Homo sapiens: one gene and its partner. The protein of the gene in region 1 purifies or fractionates together with the protein of each later gene. This does not show direct contact. Each region holds a gene or a part of one and is shown on either strand. Other genes may lie near its edges.

The links. The genes of interacting proteins can lie anywhere in the genome.
Region 2: the proteins of NPDC1 (region 1) and TBC1D23 purify together in Homo sapiens (affinity purification with mass spectrometry; 3 studies listed by BioGRID and IntAct, with this or other methods). This does not show direct contact.

What each region holds. Positions count from the first base shown.
Region 1 is NC_000009.12:137,039,444-137,043,193, reverse strand, and holds the end of NPDC1 (neural proliferation differentiation and control protein 1 precursor), read left to right. Parts: intron 1-120; coding exon 121-267; intron 268-2,006; coding exon 2,007-2,132; intron 2,133-2,209; coding exon 2,210-2,380; intron 2,381-2,456; coding exon 2,457-2,523; intron 2,524-2,595; coding exon 2,596-2,680; intron 2,681-2,757; coding exon 2,758-2,837; intron 2,838-3,126; coding exon 3,127-3,223; intron 3,224-3,329; coding exon 3,330-3,422; 3' UTR 3,423-3,731; downstream 3,732-3,750. UniProt on the Homo sapiens protein: Suppresses oncogenic transformation in neural and non-neural cells and down-regulates neural cell proliferation. Might be involved in transcriptional regulation.
Region 2 is NC_000003.12:100,263,901-100,267,550, forward strand, and holds part of TBC1D23 (TBC1 domain family member 23), read left to right. Parts: intron 1-3,650. UniProt on the Homo sapiens protein: Putative Rab GTPase-activating protein which plays a role in vesicular trafficking. Involved in endosome-to-Golgi trafficking.

The sequences.
Region 1 (3,750 bases):
AGAACCAGGCCCGGCCAGCTCGGGGGGTGACGGGGGCGGGTGGCTGGGGCAGCGCTGCCGTGTGCAGGGGCCGAGCCCTGCGGGGCCGTGAGCCGGCCCTGCCTTCTGCTTCCTTCCCAGATGTAGCCGCCTGTCCCGGGAGCCTGGACTGTGCCCTGAAGAGGCGGGCAAGGTGTCCTCCTGGTGCACATGCCTGTGGGCCCTGCCTTCAGCCCTTCCAGGAGGACCAGCAAGGGCTCTGTGTGCCCAGGATGCGCCGGCCTCCAGGTACGAGAGCAAAGGGGGAAGTCGATGGGGGGATGTCCCTGCATGAACCTCTCCCTGTAAGAAGCGGCCGGCTGGGCGCGGTGGCTCATGCCTGTAATCCCAGCACTGTGGGAGGCCCAGGCTGTTGGATCTCATGAGGTCAGGAGTTCAAGACCAGCCTGGCCAACATGGTGAAACCCCGTCTCTACTAAAAATACAAAGTAGCCGGGTGTGGTGGCACACACCTGTAGTCCCAGCTACTCAGGAGGCTGAGGCAGGAGAATTGCTTTAACCCGGGAGGCGGAGCTTGCAGTGAGCCGATTCACCACTGCACTCCAGCCTGGGCGACAGTGCGAGACTCTGTCTCAAAAAAAAAAAAAAAAAAAAAGAAGGCCGGGAGCAGTGGCTCACGCCTGTAATCCCAGCACTTTGGGAGGCCGAGGCGGGCACATCATAAGGTCAGGAGATCGAGACCATCCTGGCTAACACGGTGAAACCCCATCTGTACTAAAAATACAAAAACAAAATTAGCCGGGCGTGGCGGCGGGCGCCTGTAGTCCCAGCTACTCGGGAAGCTAAGGCAGGAGAATGGCGTGAACCCGGGAGGCAGAGCTTGCAGTGAGCCGAGATCGCGCCACTGCACTCCAGCCTGGGCGGCAGAGCGAGACTCCGCCTCAAAAAAAAAAAAGCAGCAGCCTGCAGCCTCAATGCCCAGGCCTGTGCCAGGTGGTCTTGGGGCCCCTGGACCTTGTGGGGTGTTGGGTCCAAGGCCTGGGAGATCCTCATTCACTCTCCACGAAGCCTCCCATCCTTTCCAAATGGAGGTGGGCCCAGGCCTGGGGCAGTCAGGCCCTCCCAGGAGAAGGGCTGCACGATGTGAAATGCTGGGATGGCCACGGGAGAGGAAGGGCCCATTCTCCCCGGGCCTGGGCTCTGCAGGGTCTGCCCAGAAGCCCTCCAGGCCCCCACTTCCCCGTCCCCAGGCAGCTTGCTCTTTTCCACCACTCACTGTCCTGTCCGCCTGTTGGCAAATGTTGAAGGGTGCCAGCACTGGCTGGGTGCTGGGGATGCCCCGCTCGCCAGCCTGAGCCGCATCTGTCGGGATGGCCAGTCACTGAGTGACTTCAGGTGTGGTGAGGGCTTTGCTCAGAGGTGCTGGGGGTGGGAGCAGCAGCGGCTTCCTGGAGGAGGTGTTGAGAGGAGCACCGAGAAGTGGCTGTAAGGGTCTGTGTGGATGCACCTCCTGCCAACCTGGGAGCGTCCACCCAGACTGTGCAGCCCACAGTGGGTACCGGTGGAGCCCTGCCACCAGCCCCACCCCTGACAGCTGCCCCCGTTCTCCCAATGACCTGGGGAGGGGTCCCGGGTGCTTGGCTTCCTTCGGCTTCCCCCCACTCCTTGGGGAGTCCCTGCCCCTCTACCCGAGAAGGTGCTTGGAGGTGGGGAAGCAGAAGGGGCTGTGCTGGCCAGCCCTTTATGGACATGGGTTGGGGCGAGAGACCCCACTCCTTCCTCCCCGTGCCCGGTCTTTGGACGTTTCCCTAGCGCCTCCTCCCTTGCCCTGCCTCCACTTTCCGGGAAGCACTGCCCCTCACAGGAAGCGCCCGCGCTGTCACCATGGCAATCTGGGAGGGAGAGGGCCTCCAGGCGTGTACCCAGTCCTCAGGCTCCTGGGAGGAACCTGCCAGAAGCGGGGAGGCCGGGCCTGGGGCTACCTCCTGGACGGACCCCTCCACCTGATGGCCCCTCACCCTCCCCAGGCGGGGGCCGGCCCCAGCCCAGACTGGAAGATGAGATTGACTTCCTGGCCCAGGAGCTTGCCCGGAAGGAGTCTGGACACTCAACTCCGCCCCTACCCAAGGACCGACAGCGGCTCCCGGAGCCTGGTGAGACCCCCGCTTCCCCTGCCCCACGGCCCTGTCCCTAGCCCAGTGCTCTCATTCTAACCTGTCCTCTCTCGCAGCCACCCTGGGCTTCTCGGCACGGGGGCAGGGGCTGGAGCTGGGCCTCCCCTCCACTCCAGGAACCCCCACGCCCACGCCCCACACCTCCCTGGGCTCCCCTGTGTCATCCGACCCGGTGCACATGTCGCCCCTGGAGCCCCGGGGAGGGCAAGGCGACGGCCTCGCCCTTGGTAGGTCTTGGTCGGGGGTGGGCAGGGGCAGCAGGGCGCCCTGCAGAAGGCCGCCCTCACACGCCCCCTCCTGCAGTGCTGATCCTGGCGTTCTGTGTGGCCGGTGCAGCCGCCCTCTCCGTAGCCTCCCTCTGCTGGTGCAGGTGAGCCAGTGGCCGCGGGCAGGGCAGGGAGGGTGCCACACGCTCAGAGGTCTCAGGCCCCACTCCCCACAGGCTGCAGCGTGAGATCCGCCTGACTCAGAAGGCCGACTACGCCACTGCGAAGGCCCCTGGCTCACCTGCAGCTCCCCGGATCTCGGTGTGTGGCCCCCTTCAGCCCTGAGGCTCCCGCCCAACTCTGGCCGCCAACTGACCCTCGCCTCCTCCTTCCCACAGCCTGGGGACCAGCGGCTGGCACAGAGCGCGGAGATGTACCACTACCAGCACCAACGGCAACAGATGCTGTGCCTGGAGCGGTGAGTGGCCGCCCCGGCACTGCCACCCCCACCCACCCACCCCCCATCCCCACCTCCACCTCCATTTCCACCTCCCCTGGCCAACTTTACCCCAGGCCCTGCCACCCTCACCTGCACGCTAACCTTCACCTCCCCCGCCGCCCTGCACCCTCACCTCCCCTGGCCAACTTCACCCTGGGCTGTGCTCCCCTGCCACCCCAGGGCTGAGGTGGGCTGAGTGCCCACTTCCAGACTGGGCCACTGGCACCTCGAGGGCATGGGGAGGACCCAGCGATCCCCCCCCACCCAGGCATAAAGAGCCACCCAAGGAGCTGGACACGGCCTCCTCGGATGAGGAGAATGAGGACGGAGACTTCACGGTGTACGAGTGCCCGGGCCTGGCCCCGGTGAGTGCCTCAGGGTGCAGGGAGGGGCGAACCATCTCCTGGGGTTCCCTCCCAGCAAGTATCCCCCCAGCCCACCCACTGCCCAGCCTGACACCCACATTCGCAGACCGGGGAAATGGAGGTGCGCAACCCTCTGTTCGACCACGCCGCACTGTCCGCGCCCCTGCCGGCCCCCAGCTCACCGCCTGCACTGCCATGACCTGGAGGCAGACAGACGCCCACCTGCTCCCCGACCTCGAGGCCCCCGGGGAGGGGCAGGGCCTGGAGCTTCCCACTAAAAACATGTTTTGATGCTGTGTGCTTTTGGCTGGGCCTCGGGCTCCAGGCCCTGGGACCCCTTGCCAGGGAGACCCCCGAACCTTTGTGCCAGGACACCTCCTGGTCCCCTGCACCTCTCCTGTTCGGTTTAGACCCCCAAACTGGAGGGGGCATGGAGAACCGTAGAGCGCAGGAACGGGTGGGTAATTCTAGAGACAAAAGCCAATTAAAGTCCATTTCAGACCTGCGGCTTCTGCCTGTGTTGCCAG
Region 2 (3,650 bases), on another chromosome or scaffold:
TCTTGTAGGATTGATGTATCTTTGGTGTGTCTTTGTATTTTTGCTGGTTTCATTTTCATGAATGGAGGAACCCTAACATGGTCGGTGATTTCTGTTTTCCCTCCATCCTCTTCTAATCTTTCTCCTTTTTATCCTGGCACTCTCATCAGCCCCCCAGAAGAGGATTTGAATAGGAAGACTTTGGGATTGGGAGCCAGAGGTTCAGTAAAGGCTCTGTTCTTAGAGTGCTTGGTGAATGGGTTATAGAATGGGGATGCTTTACTCTTGTTTTGTTTTGTTTTGTTGAAGAAACGAGGTCTCGCCATGTTGCCCAGGCTGGCCTCATACTCCTGAGTAGCTGGGGACTACAGGTGTGCCCCATCCATCCGGGTGTTCTACTCTGTCTTTCTCTCCCCTCCCCCTCCCTCCCTCTCTTTCTTTATCTCTCTTTCTTTTTGGAGTAAATGTTTTTATTTTAACTCTGTCAGATGGAATTTTTTCTAAAATGTATCATATATCTTACTGCCTAGCTCAAACTCATCTTAATGACTTGAGTCATTCAGTTTACAAATGTAAGTGTAATTTAAGGATAGAACTAGGTCTCTGTCCTCAGGGAATTTATGTTCTAGATACAGGAGGCATGTTTGAGAACATCGATTACTTTTGTGTTATTGTAATGTGGTGAGACTTTTAGGGCCTATCTAGACAAATTGTTGCTATGTTAAGTGACACAGCTATCCCTTTTTGAGATTGCTTTTTATAAGTTTTTCCTATTTTCTTTTTTTGTTGTCAGTGGTATCTCAATTTGTTCCTAGTCTGTGAAACTAAGCCATTGAACTTGTTGAAATTGTATATACATTCTTAAAAAGGCTCAGGATGGACCTTGAAGATCTTAAAAGTATGTGGACTCTATGACATTGTTTTTGCTGATTTTCAGTTATGTTCTAGTTCACTGCTTCTCAAAATTTAAACGTACATTGGAATTATCTGGGGAGCTTGTTAAAATGCTCTCCAGGTAACTGTGATTGTGATTCAATATATTTTGAGGTGGAACTTGAGAGTCTCTGTTTCTGACTAGCTGCTGGGGGTTGCCAATTCTGGTGGTTTATGGACCACACTTAAGTTAGCAGGGTTCTAGGTTATATATATATCAGAATGAGTAGGTCAGAGGAATTTGTATATGTCACATTGTATCACCTTACATGTTATACTAAAATATGTGTAATTACATGACTTATCATTGTTCTTTAGATAATGAACTTCTCAAGGGCAGTGGCTGATAAAAGGCAGGTGTCTCAGTAAATGTTTATTGAATGAATGTACGCATGAATGAAAACTTTCCTGTAATTATGTGCAATAGCATACTAAGCTGTCATTTCATATAAATTTCCTGACTCCAGTGTTTTTGTGAGCTGTGGAATTGTCTGTTGGTATAATGCTTATTCTTTATGGAAAGCCAAAGTAATCAGAAAATGCCTCAGCTTTCAAGCTCCCTGGGATTCAGCCATGTAAGCTCAAAGGGTGTGGTGAAATTCTTGTAAAAATGCTTATAGTTAGTTTTAAGTGATTTGAATTTAATTTTAAAAAATTAATATAAGTTATGAGAATCTGGATTTGTAAAATTAAACATGTTAAATTGTTACAGTGAAAAGATTGGTAATTACCCTCCTTGGTATTGAAGAAACTAGCACTGGATTTGAACATATGTTCTCATTTTCCGATACTTTCTTCCCAAAATAATGTCTAAAGATCTATAGTCATAATTAAAAAATTATTTTGGTATTGACTTCAATTATATAACTGTTGAAATTGGGAGTTTGTTTAATTAAAAAATGTTACTTAATATTCAACTTTTAATTAGGGTTTTTTATTGCTAAACCTTTCTTAAGTTATTGCTAAACTTTTCTTAAAATTGTAAAAATATTAATTCCACAAAGAATCTTCTATTGTTGTTAATCTGAGATGTGAGTAGGAATTGTTTGAGAATAATATTTTTCAAAGTTTTCTGCACTCTGTAAATAGTACTATCAGTGTTCCCCATTTAATAAGCATTGAAATATGAGAAAAAACTTAAAATGTCTTTTAAGAACTAAGTGATTGAAATTTCAGATATGATATAATCAATAAAGAAATATATTAAATGTAAAAGAAAAAGGAACTGTTTGTCTAAGAAGGACATTGTCTACTTGTGGAACTGGGAAGGCTGGATACTACTTTTAGAAGAAATGAGAAAATGAACTTCATTTTTTGAATTGGGGTTATGATGTGACAGTTATTTGATTTTGTAAACTATAATTAGAGGGCAGGCAAAGATAAGAAATGAAAAAGACTTATTTTATACTGTTTACATTAAAGTCTTTAATTATAATTTAGATTTTAGAGTTTTTAAAGGTAATTTTTTTTTTTTTGAGACGGAGTCTCATTCTGTCACCCAGGCTGGAGTGCAGTGTGCGATCTTGGTTCACTGCATCCTCCGCCTCCTGGGTCCAAGGGATTCTCCTGCCTCAGTCTCTCAAGGAGCTAAGATTACAGGCATGTGCCACCATGCCCGGCTAATTTTTGTATTTTTAGTAGAGATGGGGTTTCACCATGTTGGCCAGGCCGGTCTCAAACCCCTGACCTCAGGTGATCCACCCTCCTCACCCTACCACAGTGTTGGGACTACAGGCATGAGCCACTGCACCCAGCCTAAAGGTAATTCTTAGGTAATAATTCACTTCTAGGATTTTGTTTCCTGTGGATGTTTTAATATCCATAATTTGAGTTAGTAATTGGTTTTTGCATGCTAAATAAATGTATTTCAATTAATTCATTTTTATCTCTGTGTAATCACTGCAGAGAGGCGACAAGTGCATTCCCTCTGTAAGTATAGTGAGCAATTCAGAGCACCCAGTTAAATATACTGTAATATGCAGCCAACTTTTAAGTAGGAGTCTTCTGGAGAGAATTGAGAAAATATGCTTGACAAAGCATTTCTGATGCACAGTGCTGAAATGTGGATTCTTTTTGGTATAAAGACAGTGCCTTCTCTCATGTGTCAAAAAGCAAAATAGAGTTTAGCAAAAACATTCTCAGTTCAGCAAACATTCACTGAATAGTGGTTATATTCAAGCTGCTGTGTAAGGTTTTAGAAAAAAATTTGAAACAGTTTTACAATCAGGAATGTGCATTGTGGTGCCTTCCTGGGATACTTTGATTTTTTTCATCATTTTATCTCTAGGAATACTGTGTGAAAATAGCTTCTGAAGATATCTAAATGCTGGTGTTTTGGAAATTACAGGCTCTAACAGAAAATAATAGGATTAAACAGTTTGAAAAGGGGCAGGGCTTGAAATGAGTTAAATATTGAGAATTACAGATGGAAAGCAGGTAAGTACCTTCCATTAAGCTCATAAAATCAAATTCTTTCTTGTAGAAATAAAGAATTTAAGAGCCACTTAAACCTATTTTCTGAAATTTAATGTCTGTTTGTTTCAAGGGTCTGCGTAACTTTTTAACCTGAGTTAAGAAAATGATGACTAATAAAGTCATTTGTTGCAAGTCTTCATCTTTTTTCTTGATGCTTAAAGGAGTTTTTTCTTATCCTTTAGCTGACATAGCATTTGATAGTTGGGTGGAAATCTTGTAGTGTTTGCTTCTTTTTTATTTTAAAGTAGTTGTTACATTAAACT